Homo sapiens: one gene and its partners. The protein of the gene in region 1 binds, or shares a complex with, the protein of each later gene. Each region holds a gene or a part of one and is shown in the gene's direction. Other genes may lie near its edges. The genes, in order: NEDD4L, AMOT, SMAD3 and SMAD7.

Region 1 (6,238 bases):
GTCCAAGTTCGGATGCGGGAACCTGGTCCCAGCTTGAGTTCCTGCCTTTCCCACCACAAATTATCAACTGGTTGATGTGTACACTAATTACATTTCAGGAGGACTTAATGCTATTTATGTTGTGCCTCTGCAGGCAAAGCCCTTAATAAATATTTTACATCCTTTCTAATGACAATGAATGGAATTAATCACTCAACAGGTATAGTATTACGACTCATGTTTACTTTTTAAAATGATTTAGACCGATTTTCAGATTTTATTTCGTTATGATTAAAGATGTCTCATGTACTTGGAAAAGTGAGCATTTTTTTTTTTTTTGTATTTCACTTTCATACCAGGCTTAATGTCAATGACATTTTTATTTTTGAAGTACTCTGACACCTCCACCCTCTACTTTATTAGAATTGGAAGGCAAATTTTTGTCCAAAAACCTACAGACAAGTACTTTGAGAGAATTTCCAATATAATATTAGACATAATGATAATTTTTTCCATACTCAGAATGAAAAACTGGATATTACGTTTTTGTTTTGGGGTTTTTTTGTACAAATTTAGCTAATAGCTACAGGCTGAGAGAATTGTAACATAGCATGACAAATTTTGTGTTGACTTGAAAGGAATCACACCATTATTCCTTAGAAGTAATTACATGTGTTCTAACACATTTGAGACAGGGTTGGACTCCCATTTCTCATCCGAGAAATTACTTAACCCTTCCTGGCGCTGTACAGTCATCTTTTATTCTATTTCCTCTTTGCTGTTTGTAGTAGAGACATTTTGAATGAAACTTGGCACTGCTTGATTCAAAACTGTGGAAACCAGATCTGTTTAGTCTCCTGTTTGTATGCGTTTGCTAATGGTAGCTAAATAACCAGTTTTTGTTGTAAATGCACCAATTCTGAAGGCACTTTATGTACTACATGGAGGTCATATCTGGTTTTGTTTTTATTTTTTTATCATGAACATTAAATGTGATGATGATTTCTTTTCCCTGCACACATCTTTCCGGTGCAATATCTATCAATTGTGAATCTGGCTGCTGGTGTATAAAAACCTGGATGTAAAGCTGAGCCTACAGACCTGTCCTCACCAACTGTTTTGTGATTTCTACTCAACTACAAAGATTTATTTAATGTACTCTTAATCTAACTGAGTTTTGTTACCAATGACCTGTTGCATGCTTCAATACCGTGTACTGCCTGAGTTGTGCCTCTTGTGTGCTAGATTAAAAGTGAGACAGAGACTTGACTTGATCCTCTGAGCTCAAGCTATTGAGCTGGTAGTGGCAGAGGACTGAGGGTACCTGCACAGTTTGATTCTTTTCCACGTGTAAGTCTCCATTGCAGAATTGTCGTGCTTTGAGAAAACACCTGAGGCAGTGTGGGAGTTGAACGACCCTGCTGTCCTTTTTAACCTGTGTTGTCCTAGACCCTGTCGGGGCAGTCAGGGGACACTAGAGATTTGATCTCATGCGAGTCATCAATAGGACAAAAAAGTTGTGGTTTGGGGAGGTCTGTTTGTTACATAAAAAGGACCTTTCGGTGTAAGAAATTGCCGTTTTTACCCTGCCCTGGCTGGCATGTGAGAAGCCATGGAAGGTTGTGGTTGTAAATGAGTTGTCTAAAGGGGTGCAGAGGCCTGAGGTTTCTAAAAGAAGGTAGATTTCTACAGAGCTGAGTGTTGGTTCCTTTTTCTTATTGGTTGAAAATTACCTGGTAGTGATCAGAAAACTTAGATGCTATGTAACTAAAAAAAAAAAAAAAAAAAAAAAAAAAAAAAAAAAAATTCCCGCTCATGAGTTTTGACTATTGGTGAGATGTTTTCCGCTACAGTTAACATGACAAATGTCTCAGTGGCAAAAATCCCCTTTTTGTAAGCCCCCATAGTCTAGAGGCAGTTTTCTTTTTAAGAATCATGCCAGAGCCTGAGTCGAGCAGTATGCTTTCTTGGTTTTTGAGAGTAATTGTGTAATTGTAGAGGGAGAAATCCAATTCTAACCTAAGAACTGGGATTCTTCTGTCATCTTGTAAACCGTATATTGAAAAAAACAGAATGTCACTAAATGCATATTAAGTCAAGTATTGGAAAGTATAAAAGAAAAATCATTCTGACAATTTCTAAGCCAGAAGCAAACAAGAATTACTGAAATCTACCCCATGAATACTTGGAAGGCAGTAATTGTGAGTGACACCTCAGTTCATCAACCCCTTAATAATATCAGCTTAATTTTAATGACAACTAAATATGCTGAAGTGAGGATTTAGTATTTTTTAAAAAAGCAAAACAAGGTTCAGTAGTCCTCAGCAATTCTCCAAGTTTCTCTCTTTGCCTAAAATGGTCATAGATCTTGATTTCTCTGAATCGTGATGACCACACCCAGTCATCTTCACAGCATAATTGCAGGTGGCAGTAAAGAGAGTGTGCTGGGTAAGGAGCAGTTGCTGGGTCATTCCTTGGGCCCCGACCTGCCCGGGGAGTAGCCCTGGGGGAGAGAGGGCAGTGTTGCCTATCCCAGAGGTCCCAGCAGTCACACTGCTCTGCAGGCCGGGCTCTCTTTATAGCCAGAGAAATCACCTTAATGCAGTCTCTTTAGTTGTCTGCTGAAGCTGTAGTTATTATGGGCCACTTACATGAGGCTGAGAAGTACGTGCCGGAGCTCACACACTGCCTGTTGCGGTTCTCTTAACATCAGTTATCACAGCTGCCTGTGGGTCCCGGGTATTTCCATTCCTGCCCCTTGTTGGCCCGAGGAAGGATGTGGAAAGAGCACCTGGTGGGATGAAGGTCCAACAGCCTGTGCCTCTCCACTGCTGGCCCTGGAGCCGGCAGCAGTGAGGCATTCATTGTCTGTGTTGCGGTGTATTCCCAGCTTCAGTGCTCTTTTCCTTTTTGCCTGAAATGTTTATGCTTCTCTGCAGCCAGTCCTCTAACAAATCTCAAGAACAAAGGTAAGACACTTGGTTTTTGTTTCCAGGACCCTTCAGAAGGTGACATCAGATATTCCCTAAATTCAGACAATGAGGGATACAGAGCGACTTGGCATGTATTATTTCTCCCATGTAAGGACAAAGGGACAGATTATTATTGTTATTTCTGAGACAGAGTCTTGCTCTGTAGCTCAGGCTGGAGTGCAGTGGCTCAATCTCAGCTCACCACAACCTCTGCCTCCTGGCTTCAAGCGATTCTTCTGCCTCAGCCTCCCCGAATAGTTGGGATTACAGGCACCCACCACCACGCCTGGCTAATTTTTGTATTTTTAGTAGAGATGGTTTCACCATGCTGGCCAGGCTGGTCTTGAACTCCTGACCTCAGGTGATCCTCCCGCCTCAGCCTTCCAAAGTGCTGGGATTACAAGCATGAGCCACCGCACCCGGCCTCACAGTGACAGATTCTGAGAAACAGCATGCAAAACATTTGAACCATTTTCTACATCTCCCATTGTTGCATAGAGAGTGTGCACCGCTGCTATCTTGCCAGATCCACACTGGTCCTCCCGAAAGCCAGGTTCATACACAGCAACTTTTTAATTATTCTAACAGTTACCCATTAACAGTCGACTCCTGTATTTCTGAGAGTCTTGTACTCACCTCTGAAATTTAAAAACGTATAAAGAGAGCCTGGGTTAATCAGTTCTGCAGCCCCTACGTGACACTGTGCTAGTTCTCCTTCTTCTGTCTCCTCCTTACCCTGGCCCTGCACCCCTGTACTTAAGAGGGAGAGGTGGGAGGTGCTGTCTGGTATCATTTGCTGCCTCGCCAGTAGAGGGTGCCGCTGTGCAGGGTAACTGCCCGCCTGCTCCCTTCCTGACCTCCCCTGACCCCGAAGATCACTACCTCTGTCATTCAGGCATTGGGGTACATCCTGATAAGTCGTGTCAGAACTGCCAATTTCAGGACTGAGATGTGTTTTTAAAAAACAAATCCTTATAAACTCCACTTTGTACTTTAGATTTTAAAACTGGGGAAAAATGTGATATTCTTTGGACCACTTTTTTAATTTATATAAGCCTTAATGAACAGTGTCTATACATTTGCATACACACACCCCCACCCCAGAGTGTTCTCAGTATGTCAGAGAAAGTGCCACAGCATTAGGACGGGAGCTTGGAGAACGTTTTCTAGAAAAGGGTTAGCTTCCTGTTGGCATGAAATTTTCCAAGCAAACCTCATTAAACATCTGTTGTTTGTTAAAGATGTTCCACTGAAAGCAACGCATGTTTCAAAGGCACGTCTTTCCGTTCGTTGGTTTTCTGTGTGTAAGGAGTAGCATTGCTGTTGGCGCCTAACCTCGCGTGCACTGCATTCTCAACCCCGTACCAGTGCATCATCAGAAGCCTTCCTCGTGACCATAACTCTGTGTCTGCAGATATGTGTTCCCGTGTAAGCCAGTTTTCCCCTTTTACTCAGACTGATTTCACCTAGATTGTCACGGTTTCCTTCATGTTAACTTTGCGTGACTTTGTTCTTCCTTTACTACTCTGTATGTAATATATATACATATATACGTACATATGCTGTCCAAATATATTTGTATATATTTGTATAGCATTTTTACACCTTTATTGAGTAATCTGGTTTCGAAAGGAGGTGAGAGTTTAGTCCCTTCTGCAGTTTTCTCCAAGCTGTGTCCTGTGAATTTCAACCCTTGGAGCCTAAGAAAACCCTAGGAAGATGATGTTAATTTGCTGTCATTTCCTAATTCAGGATCTATCATCAAATGAAACATGAAAAAAACAGTGACTTTTAAGGTGAAAAGAGTTTCAAGCATTCCAAATAAATTATCAATGTTTCATAACTTTTTATTATAAACCCACCTCCTAATAGGAAGCCAAGTACTATTTGATACAGTGGTAAAAACCAAACTACCTTGAATTTTTTTAAGGCAACTTATGAATAATGCTCATTTTCACAGTCAGAATAGCTTTAAAATATGGTTGAATTTGATACACACAGGAAGTTTTCTTGAAGAACAATCCTTTCGCTTTTCTTTTTTCTTGAGAGATCTAAAGAGAAACTGTAGATTGTTTTCCTGACAGCAAAAGACTAATGTGACAAAATGAAGTCATTGTAAAGAAGCGATGCAACTTGTCAAATATTTAATAAAGAATTATGGAAGCTGGAACATTTTCTACATCAAGTGTTATGGGTTGTTTGATTTAAAGCTTCTTTGTGAATGCACCATCTTAATTGTTGTCAGAGGGGTTTAAATGCCTGCAGATTTATAGTATGTTCATTTCCTTCATCTCCCTAAAAGCGCCGCACTTTTAAAAACATTAAAGTCTGGCAGGGCACAGTGGCTCACGCCTGTAATCCCAGCACTTTGGGAGGCTGAGGTGGGCAGATCACTGAGGTTAGGCATTCAAGACCAGCCTGACCAACATGGTGAAACCCCATCTCTACTAAAAATACAAAAAATATATATATATATTAGCCAGACGTGGTGGCGCATGCCTGTAATGCCAGCTACTCAGGAGGCTGAGGCAGGAGAATCGCTTGAACCCGGGAGGCAGAGGTTTCAGTGAGCTGAGATTGTGCCATTGCATGCACTCCAGCCTGGGTGACAGAGCGAGATTCCGTTTCAAAAAAAAAAAAAAAGTCTGCCCAAAACACATGGCTTAAGCCTACTAAAAGGATGCACATTTATTCTTATCCGTCTGCTGTTTTGTTCTTTTATTAAACTTGAGAATTACTGATTTTACGTAACATTTGTATAATCCATGTTAGTCTGTTCCTCAAAAGGCATCCTTGTATACCTAGCCCTCAACTTGTGTGAGAGTTAATAAGACTCAATAATGAATCCCCAAGTTGCTTCTCAGAAAGGTGCTGTCAGAATCCCGACCGTGTGTCACTGCCCTGTGCAAAGCCGGTGGCATTTTTCCTCATGCCATTTCATTCCGCTCAGATCATCTCAGACTCCTGGAGAATTTTCCCTTTTTCTTTAGTACTGAGCTTCCTCTTGATGTGCTTAACCCATCCCCTCGGGGCAGAGGAGATAGCTAGCGGGGAAGCAGGACATCATTTAGTCTTTGGTTTCTTGCGGCTTGTCTTTTTCCATTAACAGTAGATGGCATCTTGCCAGAAAGCTGTCCGCAGCACTTGGAATTCCTGCCGCCTCCTCCAGGGTTATGAGTACACATGAGAGGCACAATTGGACAGAGTCACTGTGAATATTTATATGTTCTTTCTTAAAACCACACATGGTGGAACGAATTACATCAATGACACAGTTGCTAGATTAA
Region 2 (8,825 bases), on another chromosome or scaffold:
TACGTGCTTGCCTCTGCTTTTGTTCATAAATGCATTTAAATCATTTAGTTGTTCACTAGGCAACTAGAGGAAGATGTGCACATTCCATATTCCTGGTTCACTTGGTAAGTGGGGGAGAATGCCATTCAATGCAAAGCACTATGGTTTTATCATCTTTCCTTCAAGAAGAATCTGGCCAGGGATTGGGAATAGACCATAAGCTATACACTCCTTCCTACTTTTCCTGTACGTTGGACAAAAATATTGCACACAAAGGGAAGATTTTTTAATTAAGACATTTATTAGTTGGCAACATGAAACACTGGAGATTTTATATTAAAAACATTTGACTTCTGGTTTCTCTTGAAAAATCAGAAGCTGTGGTCACATTGGCCTGCATTTCCCTGTAGTGGTGATCAGGCTGCCCCTTTCACATGGGTTCTGCCTTCTTGCAACCCCTATCACTGGCATTGTCTCCTGACACTAAGCCTAAGGGTTATTAGCTTTTGTGTGTGTGCATGTGTGTTTGTGTGTGTGTGTGTGTGTGTGGTAAGAGATACGTAACAAAATTTACCATTTTAACAATTTTTAAGTGTACAATTCAGTGGCTTTAAGTACATTCAAAATATTATACAACTATCACCATTATCTAGTTCCAAACCTTTTCATCATCCCAAACAGAAATTGTACTATTAAACACTAACTTCCCACTCCCTCTTCCTCCAGCCCCTGATCACCACTACTCTACTTTCTATCTCTATGAATTTATCCATTCTAGATCCCTCATGTAAGTGGAATCATACAATATTTGTCCTTTTGTATCTGGCTTATTTCATTTTGTGTAATGTTTTCAAGGTAGACATTTGATTTTTTTAATGGATTTTATTTTGTACAGCACAGATATTGATTTTTATTGTGCAATAAAGGTGTATTTTAAGAAAAAAAAATAAAGGCCAAATAGGACAGGTAGTTTGGGATGTGGAATCTTGACTTCTGAGCTTAAAATGATCCTCCTTTTTTCCATATCGTTATATGGAGGTTTTTAATGTGTAGTATCTAGGCAACCCAGTGTCTTTACACAGGTGTTTTACAGCTAGTGGTTAATTCTCCTGGTCTCCCCCAGAGGGCTTTCTATACTTTATAGTCAGGATATGAAGACACAGGGATGCTGTGGGGATTAGTTAAATGTGTGTGGCACAGTGTGCTGTATAAACTAACTCTCTGGAACTAGTTTTCACTCTCTGCTCTTAACTTCCACAGCTTTTACTGTCAATACCATTCATTTGGCACTTAGCACATGCTTGTTAGTTGTCTTTTTATGTTTATATCCTTGAAGGCAGGAGCTAAGTCTCATGCCTCTTTGTTTTTTCAGTCTTGTCTATAATAGCGGCTCAATCGATGTTTGTTGATGTTGGCCTCCCCCTCCCCCTCTCTTTTAAGTAGTGCAGGCAATGCACAGCTTTAAATCCAAACTCGGTTTAAACAAACTGAAAGGTTTTCAGGGTGAAAACAAAGAAGTCTTGCATGGCAGGATAGAAGGCTTGGAAGACCTGGGTTAAACAGAAGTACCAAAAAGCTGTTTGCCACAGGTTAAGAAATGACTCACACACAGCCTGACTCACCATTAAGTTCAGAGTTCTGCTAACTCTACTCCATCAAAATTTGGAGAAGAGTAATGCCCAAGCAGGGTTTGAGGAGCGGATGTTAAACGAATTAAGTGTTTTAGAGGTTTCCATTGCTCCAATTCCATTGCTCCACAGTATAAGTCGCTGTGGGGAAAGGAAAGCATGTTAGAAAAGTGTTTTGAAGGCAACTTCAAGGCTAGGGGCAGGCATACTACAAATGAGCCACCAGGCCTTTGTTACCAGGATTTTTTTAAATAGCATCTTCCGTAGTAGCAAAAGATGGGAAATAGCCCAAATTTGCTTCCATTTTTTTTAGAGATAGAGTCTTGCTATGTTGACCAGGCTGACCTTGAACTCCTGGCCTCAAGGGATTCTCCTCCCTCAACCTCCCTAGTAGTTGGAACTATAGGCGTGTGCCACCACCGTGTCTGTCTCCCAAATCCCCATTTAATAAGGGGATGAGTAAAGGAATTTTGGCACAGCTATGCAATAGAATATTGAGTTATAATAAAATAAATAAGGTAAACATAGTTATCCTGAGATGGAAGAATATTTCAAATACATTGTTGAGTAAACAAATGCAAGGTGTGCCTTGATTAATGATCCCACTTGTAAGGAACAAAAAGGGAATATGCACTCATGCTTGAATATGCAAATAATCTATTTGGAAGATGACATACAGTCATAAAGAGAATGGGACTATGGGAGCAGAGTGGTGGAGAAGAACTTTTCACTGTAGTCTTTCAGTACCTTTTTGTTTGGTGTTTTTTGGTTTTTTTTTGACGGAGTCTCGCTCTGTCACCCAGGCTGGAGCGCAGTGGCCGATCTCAGCTCACTGCAACCTCCGCCTCCCAGGTTCAAGTAATTATCCTGTCTCAGCCTCCCGAGTAGCTGGAGCTCAGTGGCTGATCTCAGCTCACTGCAACCTCCGCCTCCCAGGTTCAAGTAATTATCCTGTCTCAGCCTCCCGAGTACCTGCTACTACAGGCGCATGCCACCACGTGCAGCTAATTTTTGTATTTTTAGTAGAGAAGGGGTTTCACCATATTGATCAGGCTGGTCTTGAACACCTGATCTCAAGTGATCCACCCGCCTCAGCCTCCCAAAGTGCTGGGATTACAGGTGTGAGCCACCGTGCCCAGCCCAGTACCGTTTTATCTGAATTCTTCCATGTGCATGTTTAACTTTTTTCACTTGGACAGCATTGATTTTAACAAATATCCTTTTGCCTCTGTGATTGGTAGTAGTCCTGCAGCATATACCCGCCCCCCCACATCTAGCTCTCCTGTCCACTCCAAATAACAAGGCTGAAATAACCTTTCCTTGCTTCACAAACCAGGTGTCTCCATATTTTGAACATTCAAAAACTCACTTTCTCCATGAAAAATCACCCAAATAACCTCACTTCATACATAAACAGAATCATAACGAGAATCATTTTGTGCACACTCCTGCTTCTGAATCTTTCCACAGCTCCTAGCAGAGCATGCTGCACACTCCATGACATGCAATAGTCCACTACTTTTCCTGCAGAGTTGGATTCTGAGCCCCTGTTTACTGTGTGATAGTGTTTCCTTTAAGCACACTTCCTCTTGCATGCCTTGATCCATGGCCCCCCAGATGGCTCCCATTAGGCAGGCTTGAATTGGATGTCACTCTTTCATTGGCATGAGCCATTATAATGGCCTTGCGCTGTCAAGGCGTTTACATTTAGGCTTGCTTCCTACTTGAAATGTTTTCTAGGAAATATGGATCTGTAGAGAATGGTGGTTTCCATGGTAAATGTTCCTTCATATTTGTTTTCTTAAGTTCACTTCGGAGATACACAGCATGATTTCCTCTTTCAGTACCAGAACCACAATAGCTTTAAGTTGTCATGAAATTGTAGAACTTTAAAAAAGAAATCTCACCCACCCTGCTTAGAAAAGGGGTAATTTATTATTCTAACTGCAGGGAGTCAACTTCATATCCACCCCCAAAATTGTAGGAAAAGAGTTGACTTTTTAAAATAAAGCCACAAAACCTACACGACCTTGGATGTAAATGCTTAAAACAGATGAGCAAAATATTGATCCTCTAACACATCTAAGACTCTCCATTATGTTTCACACACAAGTAGGAACACATACATGTGTGGAGTGCTTTATAGTTTTCACACACATTTTATTTTCATACCAGTGCCTTTAAGTTAATAGGGCATGTCTTACAGCATTTACTTACAGGTAGAAAAATTAAGGCTGAGAAGTTAAGCCACTTAACAGAAGTCATACAATTAGCTAGTAAGTGCCAGGGCCCCAAATGAATTCTTCCTTTGGTTCCAAATTCCATGTTATTTTGCTACCCTGACACTGTTTCTTTGTGCCTTCGTTTTTCTAGATGTAAAATGGTAGATTTTCCGTGTCCCAGGATGCTGTTCTCAACCCTCTCGTTTTTAACCAATGTCAGCTTTTTTCACAGTCAGCAGAACACCACAATGACACTTCATGTACTTTCCCCCCTCCTGATTTAATAAACTAAGGGGGAAGAAAAGTTACCTATTCGCAGAAAGCTGGACAGTGCCATAAACATAAAGGCGTACCAGAGTCGGCCGACACACTGTTGCACTCTTTTATGAGACTGAGAAATAAAGCGTCTCATCTTTCTCTTGCCAGCAGTAGCTGGGGTAGAACATAGAACTACACAATAGCCTCTTGTTTAGTTTTATTAATTTTGAGGGCGGGTGGGACAAAGGGATCAGACTGGCGACTCCAGGGCCCAATCGCAAGCGTATACTAGGCCAGGCTGGGCCAACCGGTAGCTGCAAAAGAATGGTGGGCGGGACTTACGCTTCAGGGACGCGCTCCGCCCAGGCCGGCGCTCCCAGCCCGCCCAGGGGCGGAGCCTCCGCGGAGCGCCGCCCGCGACCCCTCCTCCCTCGCCCCTCAGCTTCTGCGGCCCGCCAACGGGAGGGGGGCAAGCGCCCGGGGCGGGGGAGCGGAGGAAGAAAGGAGGGTGTCTCGCAGAGCTGTGACCTGGGTGGGGGCCTGCTGGTAATAGGAAGCAAGAGGGGAAGGAAAACGAAGGAGCGCTTCTCCTTCCTGCATTATTTTAAGCAGGCTTTGGTGGAAGCTGCTTTTCAGCATTTCTATTATTTGTTTTTCTTCCTCCCGCAGTGGGGCGGGGAGCTGCACTGGCTCTCCCACGCGTCTATGCCGCGCTGTTGCCGCAGATTATTATTGTAGTCTTTTGCAAAACCCTTTCCTTCTTCCCAGCCAGTCCCCGCGCAGACTCTCACGGCTACGGCAACCGAGTCGTGCCCCTCTAGTGGGAAGGCGAGAGCGAGGGTCCCTTGCTTTCGCCCGAGCTCCCGGACCCCGCGGTTCAATTGTTTGAAACTTCCACGCCCCCCGGCCCCGCCTCTCTTCCGCGCTCCCCTCACTCCTCACTTCCAGGGTCCAGGCAGGCTCCCGCCCTTCTTTCCCCGCCCTCTACTCCGCCTTCCTCCCTCGTCCACCCCTCCCGCCGCCCTGCTCCGGGGCGGTCCTAGCCGCTCACCGCAAGAAGAAAAGCCACCCGTTCGTCCCCCTCCCCTACCTCCCATCCTTTGCCCAGGAGCTGCCTTGGCAGTCACGCCCCTTCCTTCCGAGGAGCTTTCTGGCTGCCTAAACTGGTAGACCCCCTGAATTACTCCTCCATCTCCGCTCTCTTTCGCCTCCTCTTCTCTTAGTTCTCTCCGCCTCCCCCTCAACTACCACCACCTCCAGTCAGTCTCGCCTCCGGCTATCCGCTGCTCCACCCTCTGGCCCGGTATCCTGCCTGTCCGCTGCCACCAAGGAGAGCCCGGACGGAGCAGCGAGGAGGGGAGCAGCCGGGAGTTGGGGCTTCCCCCCTGCCCATCCCTGGCCGCTGGCCCGGGACCGAAGCCACTTGAGCGAGCAGAGAGTCGTCACCTTGTCTTCTTTGCCTTCAGGGGTAGGAGACGCGTGGTTACTTTTCGCGGGGAACTGGGGCAGGAATCCATGGTGGCATGAACTTGGTCGTGCCCTCGGCGTGAGTGAATCGATCTAGGCGCGTGTGGGAATGCCCGTGTGTTCTACTTTCTTTGCAGCTCGCCATGAGTTTTTTTGGATGTGCAGCAAGTTAAATCGGTTAGAGTGTGCGCTGCTTTCCCGTCCTACTTCGGTGAGGAGATGCTAGTGGGTACCACTACTAGATGGTACTTTTACTTCTTTACCTCCTGGGGTTCTTGTGGGTCTCTAGGTAATTAATCACATTGAGGAGCTAAAGACCCGAGGGAAGCTGAAATCTACATTTAGCCCAGCATGCATGTCAGTGCTTATCTCAGATAACTAGATAGGTTTCTGCTAAGTGCTTAGGCTTGGGGTGGGGACTCACACTCCCTGAGGCGGGAGCAGGAGGGGTAGGACCGTGAATTCTTGAAGTTTTAAAGTCTGTGTAATCTAAAACAAGGCTACTCTTTGAGATGTGTGGTGGTGGTGGTAGTGCTTGTGGTGGTAGTGATAGTGGTGGTGAGGAGGGAGTTGCCCCTATCTGCTTTAGAAGATCCAAAGATGTTAGTAAATAGTTTTGGGGGATCTTGAGGGTGTCTTGAGGGTCCAAGCCTGGGCCACTGCACATTGGTGCTTCAACAGTAAGATGGGCTTCATGGGTTTGTGAAAATGAAGAGAAAGAAAAGGGGGAGGGAAAATAACAGTCTTTAATAGACTGTGAGCAGTTCCTGGTAGATTGCCACTAATAATAATATAATAATTTGCATAAAGGGACTAAGTAGAATTAAATGAGCAAGGAAAGAGAAAGTTGGTGAGAAACAGCATTTTCAATCTCTAGTGTATGTTTTAGAACGAACTTTTCAACAACCTGGGATGTTTAGTGCATGAAGTTCTCCTCCCTCCCCGCCATGAAGAGTGGACGTTGGGAGGCAGTTTAAAACTTTTATGAATATAACCCTCTTCTCCCATTCAGAGAAGAAGATAATTAGTCACCATAATCTTCAATGATGAAGGGCTAAGGATATTTAAGTCTCCTTGAGCTAGGCTTTGTGAAAAGTTCTTTCTCAGGCCAGCCTTTGTGAAGCCTTCTCAGTTAGACCTTTCAGCACCCTCATTTAGTAGCTAAGAATAGTTTGAAATGCCATTTTGGATGTGGTATACATTTTCATCCATCTCCCACCTATCTTCAATTGGACAAGTGCGTCAAGCCTGTAAGTGATGGTGTTCAAAGACTTATTACTGAGATGTCCTTAACCCATTGCTTATTTGGGAACACATTATTAACATACATTTTAAAATAACTTTGGTTGATTTTAATGAGTGAAAGGAAAGTAGGAAGGTAGAGAAGGGCGACAATTTTAAAGGCTATCCTGTTTCAGATCAGCTGGGAGGGAAAAGCTGGCCTGACCAAACTACATTTTATAACTGGCCTGGGACATTTTAACAGCCAGGTGGTTGTAGAGTAGTTGCCTCTATTTACAGATGATAACTAAGGTTCCAACTATTCTGTATGGGTTTATCCGGCGTCATTGACAGACACTTTCTGGCACTACATCATACTTCATTTTAAATTACTTCTTTCCTTGGAAAAGTTCGTGGCTTTGTAAAATTGTAAGTGCTTTTTCTACCTTCACAGTCTAGATGTGAAGTAAACCTCTGACCACAATTGTATGTGGAGTCACTTTTACATGAAATTTGTGGATCTGTTTACCTATTTAAAAGATTTTAGAAAGGGAATTTTAATAATTCATAGTCAATGCAGTTTTGGATTTGGAAATTAAAATTTCATTTCTGGTTTATGAAGTTTGATTTATTAGACTAATTCCCAACAAGGACATTTGTAGAGTTGCTTTTTCTTTCTGAGGTTTTGTAAAGACTGCATCAGACTCTAGAATGCTTTAAGAATAGCCTAATCAGAAGGCAGGGGGATGGATACTATGACCTTGAGGTCCCATTGAGTGCCAGAATTCTAAGTGGGTACATCTGCTTCTGTGCCTCTCCCAAGAGCCCTCTCCCAGGGCCTGCGCCTTCTTTAAAAGGGTGTCTTTGTAATTAAGCGGCCCTTCTTCCCCATCCCCCTTTCTTCCTTTGATCCAGCTTTTTAAGGCCTTTTTTTCCATTTGGAGACAAGAGGGGTTTCTCACACTTTCCTGTTCCCCTCTTAACGCTTCTTTTCCTTTACCCCAGAAAAGTCCCCTGAAGTTCTCAGGATGGTTAGAAGTTGTTTTGTTTTGTTTGGGGCGTGGGGGTGGAGTGGGGGAGTTGTTACCAATGAGGAGGAATAGAGGATATATTCCCTCTTGGGAAATGCTTGTGACCAGGTAGCCTCCTCCATGGAGACTGAGCATTTGGAATGCATGAGAACAGTCTATTCTTGGGGACTGTCTGGTAGAAATTGTCCTTTGCACCCATTAAGCCCAGCTTAAACACTGAAAGGGGTGGGGAGAGGTGTGTGTGGTCGTACTGGAGCCTTTTAGGATGGTAAATGGGTAAATGTTTCCAAATCTCCTATTACATCATCTCTTTCTCCCATGGATTCAGTAGGTTTAGTGATCTGCTTGACAAGTTAATTAGCTGGGGACTAAACCAATTTGTTTAGAATTGTGATCCATTGATTTCCTGTCCCCAGGAATTTTTGTTGGTGTTTTACTATGATGTGTTGTCTTTAGTCTTACTTACTTTTCCCTCCTTGCTGCCTTTTGTGGACTTTGGTCCAAATTCTAGGGTTCCACCCCCAAGTCAAAGGTTAGAATTTTGTCCCAGGAACTAAGGGGGTATTAAACAGGCTGGCCATACTGCATTACTCTCCTCCATGGTGGGCTTCTGACCCCTTTTAACCCAGAGAAAGGAGGGAAGTCGCCCCTTCCACACACAACACACACAATCTGAACAAAAAAAAAGAAAAAGAAAAAGAAAGAAAGAAAATAGGAGGTCATTTGCTTTATAAAAGAATCCACAACAGGTTTTCTTTGTAAGTACTAGCTTTCCTAGTTAGTGCCTTTAAACTATGACTTGATATATAAAAATTCACTCTAACTGGGCCTTCTCGGAAGCATATTTATTGCATAAAGGAATACATAAGAATTTGTAATGATTATCGCTTAAATTAAGTGAGGCCATTATTTGGCCTTTGAAATCTTTTTGTTATATGGAATGGAGTTAGTTAATTGTCTAAATCATTCTGGCTTGTAATAATGCTGGCCACGTTAGCTCTGGCCTACAACTGCTTGCA
Region 3 (7,000 bases), on another chromosome or scaffold:
CTGCCTGCCTGGATAGGACTGAATACAAAAGTAGATTTTTTTTTTCATCTTTTTTTTCAGTTAGGGAAACCCAGTTGCTTGGGTGGATCCAGACAAAATGGATTTTCATCCTTGGATTTTGTGCCCACGCCTCTGGGTCACCTTGTGTCCCTTGGCAACAGCTGCTGCTGTTTTGGTCGTGGGCAGAAAACTAAAGGCCACGTCTTGGGGAGGTGGCTGGTTTGGCCCTGTGCTGGTGATATCAATGTGTCTGCTAAGCCCCATAGATTGCAGTGTTGCTTGTCAAATTGTCTGCTTTCACCACAACTGCCTTTTAGTTTGGAAAGTAGAGAAAGGAAAATGTTTAACTTAGTCATTCCCCCTGTGTGTGGGGGGTTGGTCACTGGGTGCTTAAAAACACTCTGCAAGATCTGGACTCCGGGGTTTAAGGAGCCCTCAGTCTAAGGAGATTAAGCCAAGTGTGTTTTGGCTAATATATAATCATGAGCAGCAACAGCAACATTTGGCAATTAGAGCTGTATACTAGGGACTTCCAGACCACAGGCTTGCTTCTCTGTGACACCAGCTCTGACTTGTTTCAATTATCAGGGGAGCTGGCGTGATACACACTTATCGACATAAAGAAGGTGAAAGAGATTGGTGCCAAGGAAGTGGTAAGAGCTTCATTTAGATACACCAACAAAGGGGCTGTCAGGATACTCTGAGGTCTGGCAGGATTGGCAGAATTTACACAAGTTTTATAACAGCCTCTCATGCCTCACCTGCTTGAGTACCTGAGTAAAGCTGCAGGTATCTTCCTTGCCAGTTTATAAGAATGGAATCAAAGCATTTGCCGCTGAATGAGAGTTGGTGTGTGAGCGTTATATGAGGAATAAGGAGCTCGGCACACTTAAAACTTAGTTTTCTGGTAGACACTGGTAGCTTGTACTTCCACCAGGGAATCCATGCCTTGGCCTCGTTGTTGGGAGCTAGACCAAGCTTAAAGCATTGCTTGTTTGGAAGGGAATTTGGGCTTTCTTGTGTCAGAGCACCCAGTCCAGTGGAAAATTGGAGAATTGAAGCAAACACTAGGTCTGACACACAGCATCTACTCCCTCCCTGTGAATCTGATGTTTTTTTTTTGGAGACAGAGTCTTGCCTTGTTGCCCAGGCTGGAGCGCAGTGGCATGATCTTAGCTCACTGCAACCTCTGCCTCCCGGTTCAAGCGATTCTTGTGCCTCAGCCTCCCGAGTAGCTGGGATTACAGGCGCCCGCCACCACGCCCAGCTAATTTTTGTATTTTTAGTAGAGACGGGGTTTCACCATGTTGGTCAGGCTGGTGTTGAACTCCTGACCTTGTGATCTGCCCGCCTTGGCCTGCCAAAGTGCTGGGATTACAGGCGTGAGCCACCGCGCCTCACCGAATCTGATCTTTTACTGTAGCCTCCTCTTATTATCTCCTTGACTTTTGCCAGGGTACTCTCACTTTGAGAAAGGAAAAAGATCCTAGTCTTTAACATGCCTTTTCCAGATTTCTGGGGATAGACCTATTACTAAGGCTGTAGAGGCCTCCCTTTTCTCTTGGCTGCACTTCAGAGCACCATGCCCGTGTGGCCCATTGGAAGCAAGCCCCCTTCCAGCTGCTAGGGAGGTGGTCCATTATCTCTTTGCTCTTGTTAAGTTTGATTAGGGGAGTTCCACGTAGGGCCTGAGAAGAGGAGGTGCCTGCAGGACAATAGGTAGCTGATGAGGGATCTGACTCAGCTGCAGCTGAACCTAGGCGCCACTTGACGTTCCCTGGGAACATTTAGAACCTTGGAACATGCTGCTTGCACCTGGGAGTGGAATGTTTGCAGACAGCCCCTCTGTTGTTACAGGGCTGGATTTTGTTGATTTATTGATATTTATTGGACCCTCCCATGTCTGAGTCAATTTTTTAGGTACCAGAGGAGGATGCAGAGACACGTTTGAGAAGCTCCCAGCCTGTGAGAAGCTTACACATCAGTAAGGGAAACATGAATAGGGCATTATTTGAGTATCTAACTGCTATCTCTTTCTCATTCCCAGCTACCAGTAGAAATATGAGATCTAGTATGGATGATTTTTGATGGGGGCGGGCGTTGATGTGCCTTTTAAATATTGTAGAATTCACTATGTTAGGAAATAAAATAATGACAGGCATCTGTTTTTTTCTGAAAAAAACACAAAATTCAGGTCCTGTACCTGCCATTTTACCACCTGCAAGGATTTGGGAATCCATTTAAGTTTCACAGCTTTTATATCTGCACCTGTCAAGTCAGGATGAGATAAGTTCTGTGGAAGTGTTTTGTGAACCAGAGAATTTGACAGGTATGTTACGTTTATACTTCATTCTGCATCATTCATTCATTATTGAATTATTCAGTCCTTCGTTGAGAACATACTACAATGACCACAGCAGGGTCCCTGTACTCAAAGAGCTCCCTGTCTAGAGCGGGAGACAGACTTGCCCAAAGGTATGAGGCATGAGCTGCAGCTGAGGAATGTGCTAAGTGCCCAGCAATGTGGAAACACAGTTAATTCTGTGGGAGGAGGTGTAGAGAGGAGGAGAACCCATGAGAGGTGGAAAACTAAGAAGGGGACAAGGGTTATCCAAAGGAAGCTTTTTGGACTGCAGTATGATGTTGGGAACTTTTTGGTACATGGGGATAGTTCCCTATAAGAATGAGGACGTCTTTATCCTCTTTTACTAAACTGAGTGCTGCTATAAATATGTTACCTTGTAACTGGCACTGAACAGCTAGTGACTTGGGTGCTATATTTTACTCCACTGTAAAGCATTTTCTCTTTGAAGTAAAAAGTAAGTTAGTACTGCAAACTGAAATTCAGGTTTCCTTGGTGGGAACAGGGACTTTAGATGTATCAGCTCAGAATATGACAGGGAGTGTTAATAAAAAGTGGACAACTTGGCTGGGCACGGTGGCTCACACCTGTAATCCCAAGCACTTTGGGAGGCCGAGGCAGGCGGATCACGAGGTCAGGAGATCACAACCATTCTGGCTAACACGGTGAAACCCTGTCTCTACTAAAAATACAAAAAAATTAGCCGAGCTTGGTGGCAGGCGCCTGTAGTCCCAGCTACTCGGGAGGCTGAGGCAAGAGAATGGCGTGAACCCAGGAGGCGGAGCTTGCAGTGAGCCGAGATCGCGCCACTGCACTCCAGCCTGGGCGACAGAGCGAGACTCTGTCTCAAAATAAATAAATAAATAAATGAAAAGTGGACAACTTGCAGATGGTTGTTTTGAAATTCAAAGCTTCGGTGTGACCTAGCTTCTCATTTCTCTAGTTAACACTTGCTGAGAATAAATCCTAGACGCCTGAGTTTCTGAATGAACATAGGTGCTTTTAGTGGTATATTTTTTAAAAAGTCTTTGCAAGGGTGAAGTTTTAAATGACAATTTTAATAACAGAAAAATATGAATACAGTCGCATTTAATTCTGATGAGAAATGCAAGAAGTTGATGAAATTGAAAGAATTTGTTTCAAGCTTATCACATCAGGAATCCAACTAAATGAGTTAAAAAATAAATATTGGTTTAATAATGTAAACATGTGATTGCTGTATTATTATAATGGAATAAAATTAACACGATTTAATGAACTGAGCGACCATTAATTTTTACTTGTTAATTTATTAGGAGATTTTAATGCCATTTGATGCACAGTACAGCCATTATTCTGCGTGAGCTCCTTAATGAAATAAATAAGACCAAGCAGGGCTTGCTTCAAATTGGAATCAGCTTTCATTCCTGTTAACCTTATTCTCCCACCTTTATTCACCTCTCCTTCAGCTTCCTGTAATTGCAATTAAGTTCTCTAAGATTGGAATGCAGTTTTCTTAATCAGCAAGTCTCATCAATAGTCCTAATTGACTTTTGCCCTTTTCTCCTTTGCCATATTGACTGATTAAAACAAAAGCAAAACTTAAAGACTCCATTCCCTCCCCCAAATCCCCATCTCATAGTGTTGGTTGGCTGGCAAGAGAACTGCCCAAGAAGGCTGCTCATGATGGCAGCCTGCTGAATGTGCAGGGGGTGGAAGTTCACCAGCCATGTGCAGACGTGAATGGCTGGTGCAGTGTTGGATGGGACTAACTCCTCCCTAAGGAGGGGTATGACCTTCTGTTGGCCTCTGACAAGTCCCTGAGCCATGGAGCCTTCAGTCTTCCCATCTTCAAGCACAATGGTTCCTGGAAACAGTGGGAAGTTGCCATCCTAAGCCCACCCTACAGAAGTTTGGTTTCTAATTTTACTGTGTTCTAAGCTTTAGAACCGAGACAATTCCAAGAGAACTTGTCCAGTTCATTTTTATGCCTTCCTTTAATGCCGTACCAGGTGCTAATTTCTGTGCCAGATAATGCGGACAAAATAGTGAATAAGGCAGATACTGTCCCTGGTGCCTTCTGTAGCTTCTAGTCCACTGGCTGTGAAACACAGGTTCTTTGGAGTTGTAAGAATGCTGTATGTGTTCACTCTTTAGCTAATTTGTAAATACTGTTTTTTTGGTGCCAAACCACATCCCCCAAGCTCTGCAGTTTATTGACTTGACAAGGATCTCTCTCTCTCTTTCTCTTTCTCTCTGTATAACATAATCCTTTGTTTCGACTTAACAGTTTGAGAAATAAACAAATCTATAGCATACTATCCACTGTTGGTTATCTAAGACCCTTCCTATAAACAGCAGCCTGCCACAGTGGCAACTGCTGTAGAATGTTTTGGCAGAGACTCAGTTTAAAATGAAAACACAGTAGAAGCCTATTAATTAAGAAGTTTGGCTAATTCTGGACTAGGCAAAAGTTTGTTTAGCAGGCCTTTTTGCCCCATAAATGCTGTCAAAGAAAAATTAATAAACAAGAGTTTGGGGATTATTTTGGAGGTAGGAGTCAGCAGACCTTGGTAGGTTCTAGACGTGGCTCTGTTTCTGATTAGCTGTGTGACCTGGGACAAGTCACCTTCTTTGGGCCTCGAATGTTCTCAACTGGAAAATAGGCTAGATAAACTCTATTGGAGGGCCTTTCTAACTTGGAATTGGTATTCATACAAGCATTTTATTTTATTTTATTTTATTTTTTGAGATGGAGTTTCGCTCTTGTTGCCCAGGCTAAAGTGCAATGGCGCGGTCTTGCCTCACTGCAACCTCCGCTTCCCAGGTTCAAGTGATTGTCCTGCCTCAGCCTTCTGAGTAGCTGGGATTACAGGCATGTGCCACCACACCCGGCTAATTTTGTATTTTTATCAGAGACCAGTTTCGCCATGTTGGCCAGGCTGGTCTCCAACTCCTGGCCTCAAGTGATCTGCCCGCCTCGGCCTCCCAAAGTGCTGGGATTCCAGGCCTGAGCCACCGCGCCCGGCCACATACAAACATTTTAAAAGCTCCCAGTTGCACGCATCTAGTTGATCAGTGAATGACAGATCTTTCTTAATTATTGATGTTCCAAGACTCTATCAGCCTGGTGTCAATTAATTTACATAAGTAAAAATAATAAAATTGTAATTCAGCCTTTAATTTTGGTGATTTCCCTCCCTCTTCCTTGCCTCTTCCTTACTCTGTGAGTCTAAATCAGTGAAATTTAACTACAAAGGAATATGAAAATAATGCTAGGATGAAGATGTGGAGGCTGTGCCTCTTGAGATGCAGTGAACAGTTTTTCTTCTTTTGTTGCTATTTTTGACTATTCTAAGAACAGGAAGTTTACTTAAACTAATGACCACAGATGCCTAAAAATGGTTAAATGTAAGAGGTAGGCATTATAGAGGATACCTGTGGAAAATGTTTGCTCATATGTCAAAGTTTACCCAGGAAGCTTCCTTTATTTATTTCCAAGCATCTATATAAAGAAAGGCTGCACTTGATTGCGTAAGCATGAGCCTTTTGTTAGGCAGCGTGGATGTTGCAAGTTTAAACCCCAACTAGGAAATGAAAAGTGAGTTTCCTCCTAAATAGTTCTTTTTCAGTATCACATGGCTCTCCCAGCTTACATCTGGCAAGTTTTTCTCTTGAGTGCTTTGCCGGTAGTTTAGGACTCCAGTATTGTATTGTATTGTTTGTTTGTTTCTTTATCTCTGTCTCTCTCTTTTTTTGTTTTTTGAGACGGAGTCTTGCTGTGTCGCCCAGGCTGGAGTGCAGTGGCGTGATCTCAGCTCACTGCAACCTCCGCCTCCCAGGTTCAAGCAGTTCTCCTGCCTCAGCCTCCCATGTAGCTGGGACTACAGGCGCCCGCCACCATGCCCAGCTAATTTTTGTATTTTTAGTAGAGATGGGGTAGGACTCCAGTATTAAGAAACACTGTGTATGGCTTTGCCTTTGAAACCTACAGAGTTATGAATCTGGTCCCTTTTGCTGCTAAGTGTTGCATCACAAACTGCCAAGCCAAGTTGTAACTCTGAGGTGTCACCATTTTTTTTTTCTTTTCAACTGGACATTTGAAAATAGTAATGCTTTTTGGGTGTGTGTTTTTTAAAGGTCTGTTTTTACGCTGTCACTGCTCAAAAATGCCAAAAGGCATTTTTTCCTTAAAAAATCACCTCTGGGCTAAGCCCAAATGTGGAGTAATGAATCCAGAAAGGACTTTTTGAGTAGTTACAAGTGGCTGAAAGCAGGCACTGGTGATGGAAATTGGGTTTTTCCTTTTGCTTCAAATCTTCCTGGTTGTAAACTTTTTCTTACCCTTATTGAAGTCAGACTCAAGGTGGGTCTAATTTCTCCCAGCCCATGGGAAGGCAGAGTGAATTACTGCTTGTTGTGCCAACCCTTTACATTTTGTGTGTGGCTGTTTGTCTCTACCCAGACAGGTTCTTCACATATTACCTGGGGAGCAGGAGAGGGGGAGGACAGGAAGAGCACAGTTGGGCAGAAAGAGCAAAGCCTCTCAAGTCTGATGGGTTTGGGTTTGAGTCTGACAGTTATTAGCTATGTGGTGACCTTGGGTACTTTGCTTCAACTTATTGAGCCCCAGTTTCTGCATCTGTAAAATGAGGATGA
Region 4 (8,430 bases), 9.4 Mb from region 1:
CAGGTGTGGAGAATTCACCTGCTTTTTCGGTCACTTCCTGTGCACTCTACTGCCTTCCCTGGCTGCTCAGAAAACATGGGCCTTGGAGCAACTTCCCTCGACTTCCTCTCTCCTCTAGATTCCTAGCCAGCAGCCGGTCAAGAGGCAGCCCCACAGTCCTCTGGGCGGCAGTGGCCGGTGATTAAGTAGCCAGGTCTTTAGCTGATTCCATCCTTGTTTGTCATAACTCTGCTGCAAGTTATTTTGGTCTCTGTGACTTGTGGCGGCACCATGATTAGGGTTTGATTACTATCACCAAAGCGACTAAAAGATGAAAATAGAAGCCACAACAGGAAATAAACAACTGCAAATGAGCTATTTTATTCCATATTCCCTGCCAGCAAATGATTAGAATCAAACTCATTCACAATAGTTTGGTGAACTCTTAAACTTTTTTCTTAAGGGTCAGAATAGTCTGAAACTGCGTGTTTGTTGGCCTCCTTTGTGCCTGTGGAAGGGAAAGAAAGAAACTACCTTTCTAGGCACACCAGCCTGCTGGGAATTCCTCTACTGCCAGGCTTCTGGCTTCTTTCTTGGAGAGGAGAGGGATAAGAATGTGATGGGGTGGGGCTATCAGGAAAGCTGGGATGTTAACTGATTCAGGGGATGCCAGGGAGCTATAAAGCAGCACCAATCATTGTAGCTACTTGCTCAGCACCGCACCCAGCTTCTACCTAGGGTAGCAAAATGGAAGAGGAAAGCCGTGTAGAGAGGGGTGACACCTGAATTAATACACCTACAATTACACTATACGGGAACATATCTCTGCAAGTACATGCATGTTCCACCCAGACAAACCGTGACGTCAGACTCCACTCTTGAAACACCCATGAAACCTACCTGCCCTGTGTGTGCTCCGGCCTCTCATTACAGAGCCTTAGCACTACTGGCCAGATCTCCAAAAGATTCTTCAGATTCTCCATTTAGCCAAGAAACTGAATTAGAATTATGACCTCTACTTTCTCTGCTTATTTAAGTCCTTTCTGTTGCTATGAAGCCTGGTCTGACCACTCTCAATAAGTGAAGATCTTTTAGGGAGATCCAGAACAGAGAGGGAATGGGACCCTAGAGAGCGGAAACTTGCCCAGAAAATCTTATAAACTCTGCCAAGTGCTCGCCTAACGTGGGGATTGCTGTTGGCCCTAGTTGCTTAACCAGTGAGCGGCAACGCCCCAGCCTGGAATCAGGTTTTCTGACCTCTAGTCTGGTACTCTTTCTAAGCCTTTCTAAGGTGAAAATATGATACATTTCCCAGACACCTTAAAAATCCCATTTCTGGGCCGGGCGCTGTGGCTCATGCCTGTTATCCCACACTTTGGGAGGCTGAGGCGGGTGGATCGCCTGAGCTCAGGAGTTCGAGACTAGCCTGGGCAACACGGTGAAACCTTGTCTCTGCTAAAATACAAAAAAATTAGCGAGGTGTGGAGTGCACGTGTAGTTCCAGCTACTAGGGAGGCTGAGGCAGGAGAATTGCTTGAACCCAGGAGGCGGAGGTTGCAGTGAGCTGAGATCATGCCACTGCCCTCTAGGCTGGGTGACAAAGCAAGGCTCCATCTCAAAAAAAAAAAAAAAAAAAAAAATCCCACTTCTGTCTCTTTCGTCTTCCCTTGCCTATCATGATAGGCCTCCCAAAGTGCTGGGATTACACTCCTTCTCCATTCTCTCCTGTGCTTTCTCAGCTGCTGTCTTCACAGGTTGCTTCTTAGAATGTTTTTTTAATACACACACAAGGTTTCAATGCCCTTTTATACAAGCCATATTTTAATTTACAACAAAATTATGATGTTATACAACTGCAGCTTATGTGGCCTTACACAGTAAATGTTCAGAATGGCAGCTTCTGTCCGTCCAGTAGGGTTCTGCACTGCTTGGCATCCTACTATCTTCCAAGTCAATAAGTGTTAGGATCTCCTTGCCTGGAAATGATCATGTAAGCAATGTTGCTGATTTCCTCTTGAATTTATATTACCAAAGGTACTTTTGGTGGGGTGGAGGAAGGGTCCAAATGCCCCTTAAGCCCTAAGTGTTGATTTCTAAATATTTATTAAGCATCTACTATTGTACTAATATGTTAGAAATCTTTTTAATTGCTAGAGGGGGAGAGGACTTGAGCTCTAAAGGCGGCTAAGATTCATTCCTGCCTTTTCCTTTTAAGAACATATAATTTAGCCGGCAAGATGTACATTTCATCTTTACTTTTCTTTTTTTCTTTTCTTTTTTTGAGACAGAGTCTCACTCTGTTGCCCAGGATGGAGTGCAGTGGCGCGATCTCAGCTCACTGCAACCTCCGTCTCCCGGGTTCAAGCAATTCTCCTGTCTCAGCTGGGATTACTGGCGCGCGCCACCCGCCTGGCTAATTTTTGTATTTTTAGTAGAGACGGGTTTCACCATGTTGGCCAGGCTGGTCTCAAACTCTTGACCTCAGGTGATCCACCTGCCTCAGCCTCCCAAAGTGCTGGGATTACAAGCGTGAGCCATCGCACCTGGGCACATTTCACCTTTTCTAAAGATTATTTTAAGGCCAGGTGCAGTGGCTCACGCCTGTACTCCCAGTACTTTGAGAGGCTGAGGCAGGTAGATCACTTGAGGTCAGGAGTTCCACATCAGCCTGGCCAACATGGTTAAACCGCGTCACTACCAAAAAATACAAAAATTAGCCAGATGTGGTGGCGCGCGCCTGTAGTCCCAGCTACTCCGGAGGCTGAGGTGGGAGAATCGTTTGATCTGGGGAGGCAGAGGCTGCAGTGAGCCGAAATCGAGCCACTGGACTCTAGCCCGGGTGAAGAGTGAGACTCTAAAAAAAAAAAAAAAAAGAAAGAAAGAAAGAAAAAAAGATTCTTTAAAGCCCCCAACGAGTTTCACTGCTGGCCTGATCTCACAATTCTCAATGGCTTTTTAAAAAAATCGTATTTCACTGAATATGAAGTGAGGTTAGATCACCATGCCAACTAGTGGCCTCATCAATACTGATGTGTGTGTATTTAAATCATTACGTTTCTCGGAGCCATCAGCTTTCACGCTGTAAATGCGTTTATGCCCTAGCAATGCCATGCCCGTTTCTATGCAGTAACCCGCCAGCTTGGGTATATGTTTCTTCGGGACCTGGGGTCAAGGAATAAACTCTCTGACTCTAAGCACCTTGAAAGCTACGAGGCCCAGAAACAGGGCCTGCATGCAAATGAATGCCCTAGGCAGGTCTGCTCGCTGGGTAACCTTCCCGCGCCGGGAGGCAGGGTGGCGGGTGGCGGAGGTCTTCCGGGCCCGGGAGGAAACCTGCCCGCGGCGCGCAGGCGAGCCCCCACCCCCGCTCCCCTTCTCCCGCCGGGATGCTGCCCCTCACAGCTCGTCAGCCGGCCAAATGCATTCCAGAGCTGTGCACAAGACACACTTCTCCAGGCAGTCCTAGAAACCGGAGCCCGGAGCTGAGAGGGCGGGAGGGAGCGCGCGGCCGCCGCTGAGGTCATATTCACGCCGCCTCCCCGCCCTCGGCGGCTGTTCCCCTCAGCGCACACTTCCCAGGGCCTCGGTCCAGTCCGGTATAAATGTCTTTTAAACCGAGACAGCGCTCTCCTCCCCTTGCCCTCGGGCGCGGCCAAGGGATCCACCGCCAGGGCCTTTAAAACAAAACCAATGAATGAAGCGCTAGGGCGAGCGCGCGCGAGATGGCCACCGCGAAACCCAGCCGGGTCGAAATCGGGCCACCGACCCGCTCGCTCAGCTCCAAAACTCGCGGCGAAGCCCGCTCGGTGCTCCCTGCTTTTCCAATTTCTCCATGGCTCCGGCCGGGGCTCAATCCATTCTGGGAGCTTCTCTGCCCCCCACCTATCTCTCTCCCCTCCATCGGTACCCCCTCTACAGACCCGGGAGGGGGTGGCGGTGGCGGGGGGTTGGGGGGAGAAATAGCTTTTAGAAACCCGATCTGTTGTTTGCGAAACACAATCGCTTTTTTTTTTTTTTTAAAGCGACAGGGTGTCTAGACGGCCACGTGACGAGGCCGGAGCCGGGCGCGCCACTGCGCAGTGGAACCAGCCGAGCAGAGGGCCGGAGGGGGGGTGCGGGGGGGCGGGGAGGAGGCGGCGCGGCTGCGGCGGCTGGGGGCGGGGGAGGGAAGGGGGAGGAAGGGGGAGGGAAGGGGGCGGGGGCGGGAGGCCTTGCGGGAGGCGGTGAGCCCCGGGCACACTCGCTTGCTGCTCGGCGCACGGAAGATCCTGTCCCCGAGCCGCGCCAGCCGAGCCAGCCGGGCGCCGTGCTCGGTCCGCTCGCCGCGCGGGAGAGAGCTGCCCGAGACAGAGCCAGTCCGTCGGCGCCGAGCCGCCGAGCGCCCGGCCCCTGAGCCCCTGAGTGCGGCGCGGCGAGCCCCTGGCGGCGGCAGAAGGACCGGAGCGCCAGGAGAGGGCGGACCGGGGACAAGGAGGCTCCCGGGCGCGACGAGGAGAGTCTCGGAGGAGGAGGCGCCGAGAGGACACCGGGGCCTCCTGCCGCCGCAGCTGGGTCGAGGCGAGCAGCCCATGCGGGGAGCCTCGGCGGCCAGCCGCGGCCAGGGGAAGGGACATCGGCGGCCCCTGCACTAGCAAGCAGCTTGTGCCCGGGGGGGGCGAGAACGCGCGACCCGTCTGGGGCCCTCCGCCGCCGCCGCGCCACCCTCCCCCGCGCTGTCAGCCCCGCCGGGCTCAGCCGCCGCCGCAGCATCTTCTGCCCCTGCGCCCGCGCCAGCCTCGAGGAAGTCCCCGCCGAGGACCTGGGCCCCCAGGAGCGCAGGGGGAAAGACCAGAGACTCCCCTAAACCACCCAGATGCGCAGGATTGAAGCGGTCTAGCCAAAGCTTTCTGTGGATTAAAAAAATACACGATTTTTTTTTTTTTTTTTGGCAGAAGAAAAGGAGAGGAAGACCAGCGGGGCTTTGCAAGGAAACGGGGGGATGTAACTCGTGGATACATTTTTCCACCCATCAAACATCTTGTTATACTTTGTAAACATTTTCTTTTTTTAAACCCCAGTTCCAGCCGGACGCCCCCAGACCTCTGAGGTTCGAGGAGGTGGTGGTTTTCATTTGGGGCTTTGCATATTTGGTTGTTAGGTTTTGCGAGAGCCTTCTTATTTTGCCAGACGTCTCATGCGGGGTGAAGTCCACTCGGCCCCCTCCCCTGAGTCTTCGTGTGCGCGGAATTCGAGGAGATCCGGTTACTAAGGATATAGAGGAAAAAAATAAATCGCTTGCTTTTTTTTTTTTAATTGCCTGCTTCTCCCCACCCCCAAATTAAGTTGCTTAGCAAGGGGGAAAGAGGCTTTTTCCTTCTTCCAACAGCCCAGCCGAACGCCTTTCGTTTTTTGCCCCCGCGGACCTTCCATGTAGGAAGCCGAGGCTGGCGAGCCCGACATTCGGGAGCCACTGCGGGGGGGCCTCTTTTTGGGGAGGCGCCGACGGGGGCAGGCTCGGCCGTCCCCAGGGAAGCGGCGGCCGGGTTCCTCCGGGGCGCGCCGGGGCCGGAGAGCCGCGCAGGGCGCGGGCCGCGCGGGGTGGGGCAGCCGGAGCGCAGGCCCCCGATCCCCGGCGGGCGCCCCCGGGCCCCCGCGCGCGCCCCGGCCTCCGGGAGACTGGCGCATGCCACGGAGCGCCCCTCGGGCCGCCGCCGCTCCTGCCCGGGCCCCTGCTGCTGCTGCTGTCGCCTGCGCCTGCTGCCCCAACTCGGCGCCCGACTTCTTCATGGTGTGCGGAGGTCATGTTCGCTCCTTAGCAGGCAAACGACTTTTCTCCTCGCCTCCTCGCCCCGCATGTTCAGGACCAAACGATCTGCGCTCGTCCGGCGTCTCTGGAGGAGCCGTGCGCCCGGCGGCGAGGACGAGGAGGAGGGCGCAGGGGGAGGTGGAGGAGGAGGCGAGCTGCGGGGAGAAGGGGCGACGGACAGCCGAGCGCATGGGGCCGGTGGCGGCGGCCCGGGCAGGGCTGGATGCTGCCTGGGCAAGGCGGTGCGAGGTGCCAAAGGTCACCACCATCCCCACCCGCCAGCCGCGGGCGCCGGCGCGGCCGGGGGCGCCGAGGCGGATCTGAAGGCGCTCACGCACTCGGTGCTCAAGAAACTGAAGGAGCGGCAGCTGGAGCTGCTGCTCCAGGCCGTGGAGTCCCGCGGCGGGACGCGCACCGCGTGCCTCCTGCTGCCCGGCCGCCTGGACTGCAGGCTGGGCCCGGGGGCGCCCGCCGGCGCGCAGCCTGCGCAGCCGCCCTCGTCCTACTCGCTCCCCCTCCTGCTGTGCAAAGTGTTCAGGTGGCCGGATCTCAGGCATTCCTCGGAAGTCAAGAGGCTGTGTTGCTGTGAATCTTACGGGAAGATCAACCCCGAGCTGGTGTGCTGCAACCCCCATCACCTTAGCCGACTCTGCGAACTAGGTGAGAAGTTGTCCCCCTACCCCCAACATTTTCCGGAGCGCCAGTGCTGGAAGAAAAGCCCCTAGGGCAGTGCGTTTGTGCAGCCATCCCTCCAGGGGGAGTGTGCATACCCTCCTGGGAGAGTGTGCATACCCTCCTGGGAGAGTGTGCATACCCTCCTGGGAAGAGACTGGGGGCTGAAAGTAGAGAAGGGACAAGGGGAAACTCAAAGGGCATTCCCTGGGGGTTCCCTTCCAGGTTTTCTCCTGTGTTGCCCCGAAGGGGTCTACGGGCACTGCTCCTGCAGTCTGCGGTTAAAAATTAGACGCCTTCATTTCCGGATCAACAAGGGGGTGCAGAGGGAGGTGGGGGGGTCACGCCTCCCCGCACCCGGAAAGACGTTGAGGTGTGTGGCCGAGTTGGATTTGGTCCAGGCCCGCCAAGGAAGGCTGGGAGAGGCGTGCTATAAAGGCTGGAAGGTCTCCGTATTTACTCCTTTAGTAAATACGGAGAATCACGTCGAACACCAGTGGCCCAGATACTGTCGTGGCCGCGCACCTTTGGAGTTTTGGGGCAAAGAGAGTTGGATGGAAGGCCGAACTGGGTATCTGTCTCCTTTCAACTCTGCCAGCCCCAGGGTGCAGAGGAACAAACAGGCAGGAGAAGTTGGGTGTCCCCTACTTTTTCCTTCCTTCCGCACAGATAAGTCTGTAGATTAGTGGGGCCCCGGCGCCTCAGTGACGTTGTCGCCTCTTACTGCGCTGGGGCCTGGGCTTCTCGGCTGAGACCCTGAAACTCCTTTCCTTTTATCCTCTCAGCTTTCTCCATTCCTTCCTTTACTCTACGTCTCTGTACACAGAGTGTGATGTGAGGGTTCACCCCGGGCGCCCGCAGATCCCCCACGTTCCCCAGCACGCTTGGGATGCATCTCCCGAGTGCGCTAGGAATGGGCAGCCCCGTGTCCCCCGCGCGAGTGCCGAGCGGACCGGCGGGGGCAGAGGTGAATTGCACGCCTGGGGGGCGGGCCGGGGCGGGGAGCCGAGGTTGCTGGGAGCTGGGTCTGGAGTCCGAGGACGGGGAGGGGGCATGGTCGCCCCCCGCCCTGTGAACTGTGAAGTGCGCGGCTCCGGCCGAGCCGGTGGTTTCCAGCCGGGCCAGCCGAGCGCGGCGGCTGCGGCCGCAGACGTGGAGGAGCGGAGCGCCGAGGCTGGCGCCAGGCGGCCTCTTTTGTTTATCTGACAGCTAAATATCAAGGCAATCACCGCCTCGCGGCCCTGCCTCCAACCCCCACAGCTAAGACAAACAGTTGGGCTAAAAGAATGCCTCTGTTATCATAAGTTTCTATCTCTCTTCTCATGGCTGGGCCTTTATTTTCTCTTGCTTTTTTAATTTCAGAGTCTCCCCCCCCTCCTTACTCCAGATACCCGATGGATTTTCTCAAACCAACTGGTGAGTAGATGATTTTTAAAATATCCTGCTTATCTTAAGTTAGAAATAGAGCCTCTAGAACGTGGCTTTTTGTGTGTAGGCAAAGGCTTGGGGAGGTGCTGGGCTTCACGTTGGTTCTAGGTTTCCTCTGTTGGAAGTTTGGTGAATTTTTCTGTTGTGGCTGGGTTTTTTGCTGTTTTTGCAAAGACGTTCCCTTGATATGCTTTACATTTTGTTCCTTTTTCATGTATTTGTGCTGTGTAGCCGGTGGGCTCAGCTTTAACACGTGGAAGCTTTAGTCCAGAGAGAAGTGTCTTGGGAACCAAATAGGACTGGTTGATGGGGATAACTCGGAGACTTAGTGAGTGCCAGGAGCATCAGTGGGAATAATGGAAAGGGTGATTCGATAGATGGGAAGACGGTTTAAAAAGGTGCAAAGAAGACTTTGGTCTGGAGTAGACACTAGAACTTTTCAGAAGTATAGGCAACAGCCAGTAAAAGGGGGGGGGGGGTAGGTTCCTCCTGCTCCAGTCACCTGCAAGTCAGTCCTCTCCCGGGGTTTTCTCAGTATTCGCCATAGGGACTATCAAAGTTTGAAG

The links.
Region 2: the proteins of NEDD4L (region 1) and AMOT are in contact, whole or in part, in a crystal structure (PDB 7LP3), measured with the Homo sapiens proteins. Residues at the interface, in NP_001138439.1 of Homo sapiens: Lys202, Asp204, Leu206, Arg208, Tyr210, Val212, Asn213, His214, Arg217, Thr218, Thr219, Gln220, Trp221; in NP_001106962.1 of Homo sapiens: His235, Arg236, Gly237, Pro238, Pro239, Pro240, Glu241, Tyr242, Pro243, Phe244, Met247.
Region 3: the proteins of NEDD4L (region 1) and SMAD3 are in contact, whole or in part, in an NMR structure (PDB 2LB2), measured with the Homo sapiens proteins. Residues at the interface, in NP_001138439.1 of Homo sapiens: Glu392, Glu393, Arg394, Lys398, Gly399, Arg400, Tyr402, Val404, Asn405, His406, Arg409, Thr410, Thr411, Trp413; in NP_005893.1 of Homo sapiens: Glu178, Thr179, Pro180, Pro181, Pro182, Gly183, Tyr184, Leu185, Ser186, Glu187, Asp188.
Region 4: the proteins of NEDD4L (region 1) and SMAD7 are in contact, whole or in part, in an NMR structure (PDB 2LTY), measured with the Homo sapiens proteins. Residues at the interface, in NP_001138439.1 of Homo sapiens: Arg394, Asp396, Lys398, Arg400, Tyr402, Val404, Asn405, His406, Arg409, Thr410, Thr411, Thr412, Trp413; in NP_005895.1 of Homo sapiens: Glu203 (codon at 6,418), Glu205 (codon at 6,424), Ser206 (codon at 7,801), Pro207 (codon at 7,804), Pro208 (codon at 7,807), Pro209 (codon at 7,810), Tyr211 (codon at 7,816), Ser212 (codon at 7,819), Arg213 (codon at 7,822), Tyr214 (codon at 7,825), Pro215 (codon at 7,828), Asp217 (codon at 7,834).

The regions. Positions count from the first base shown.
Region 1 is NC_000018.10:58,396,410-58,402,647, forward strand, and holds the end of NEDD4L (E3 ubiquitin-protein ligase NEDD4-like), read left to right. Parts: 3' UTR 1-5,130; downstream 5,131-6,238. UniProt on the Homo sapiens protein: E3 ubiquitin-protein ligase that mediates the polyubiquitination of lysine and cysteine residues on target proteins and is thereby implicated in the regulation of various signaling pathways including autophagy, innate immunity or DNA repair.
Region 2 is NC_000023.11:112,837,182-112,846,006, reverse strand, and holds the start of AMOT (angiomotin), read left to right. Parts: upstream 1-5,175; 5' UTR 5,176-5,555; exon of another isoform or gene 5,556-5,799; intron 5,800-6,056; exon of another isoform or gene 6,057-8,825.
Region 3 is NC_000015.10:67,068,602-67,075,601, forward strand, and holds part of SMAD3 (mothers against decapentaplegic homolog 3), read left to right. Parts: intron 1-7,000. UniProt on the Homo sapiens protein: Receptor-regulated SMAD (R-SMAD) that is an intracellular signal transducer and transcriptional modulator activated by TGF-beta (transforming growth factor) and activin type 1 receptor kinases.
Region 4 is NC_000018.10:48,947,806-48,956,235, reverse strand, and holds the start of SMAD7 (mothers against decapentaplegic homolog 7), read left to right. Parts: upstream 1-5,270; 5' UTR 5,271-5,811; coding exon 5,812-6,424; intron 6,425-6,902; exon of another isoform or gene 6,903-7,007; intron 7,008-7,798; coding exon 7,799-7,852; intron 7,853-8,430. UniProt on the Homo sapiens protein: Antagonist of signaling by TGF-beta (transforming growth factor) type 1 receptor superfamily members; has been shown to inhibit TGF-beta (Transforming growth factor) and activin signaling by associating with their receptors thus preventing SMAD2 access.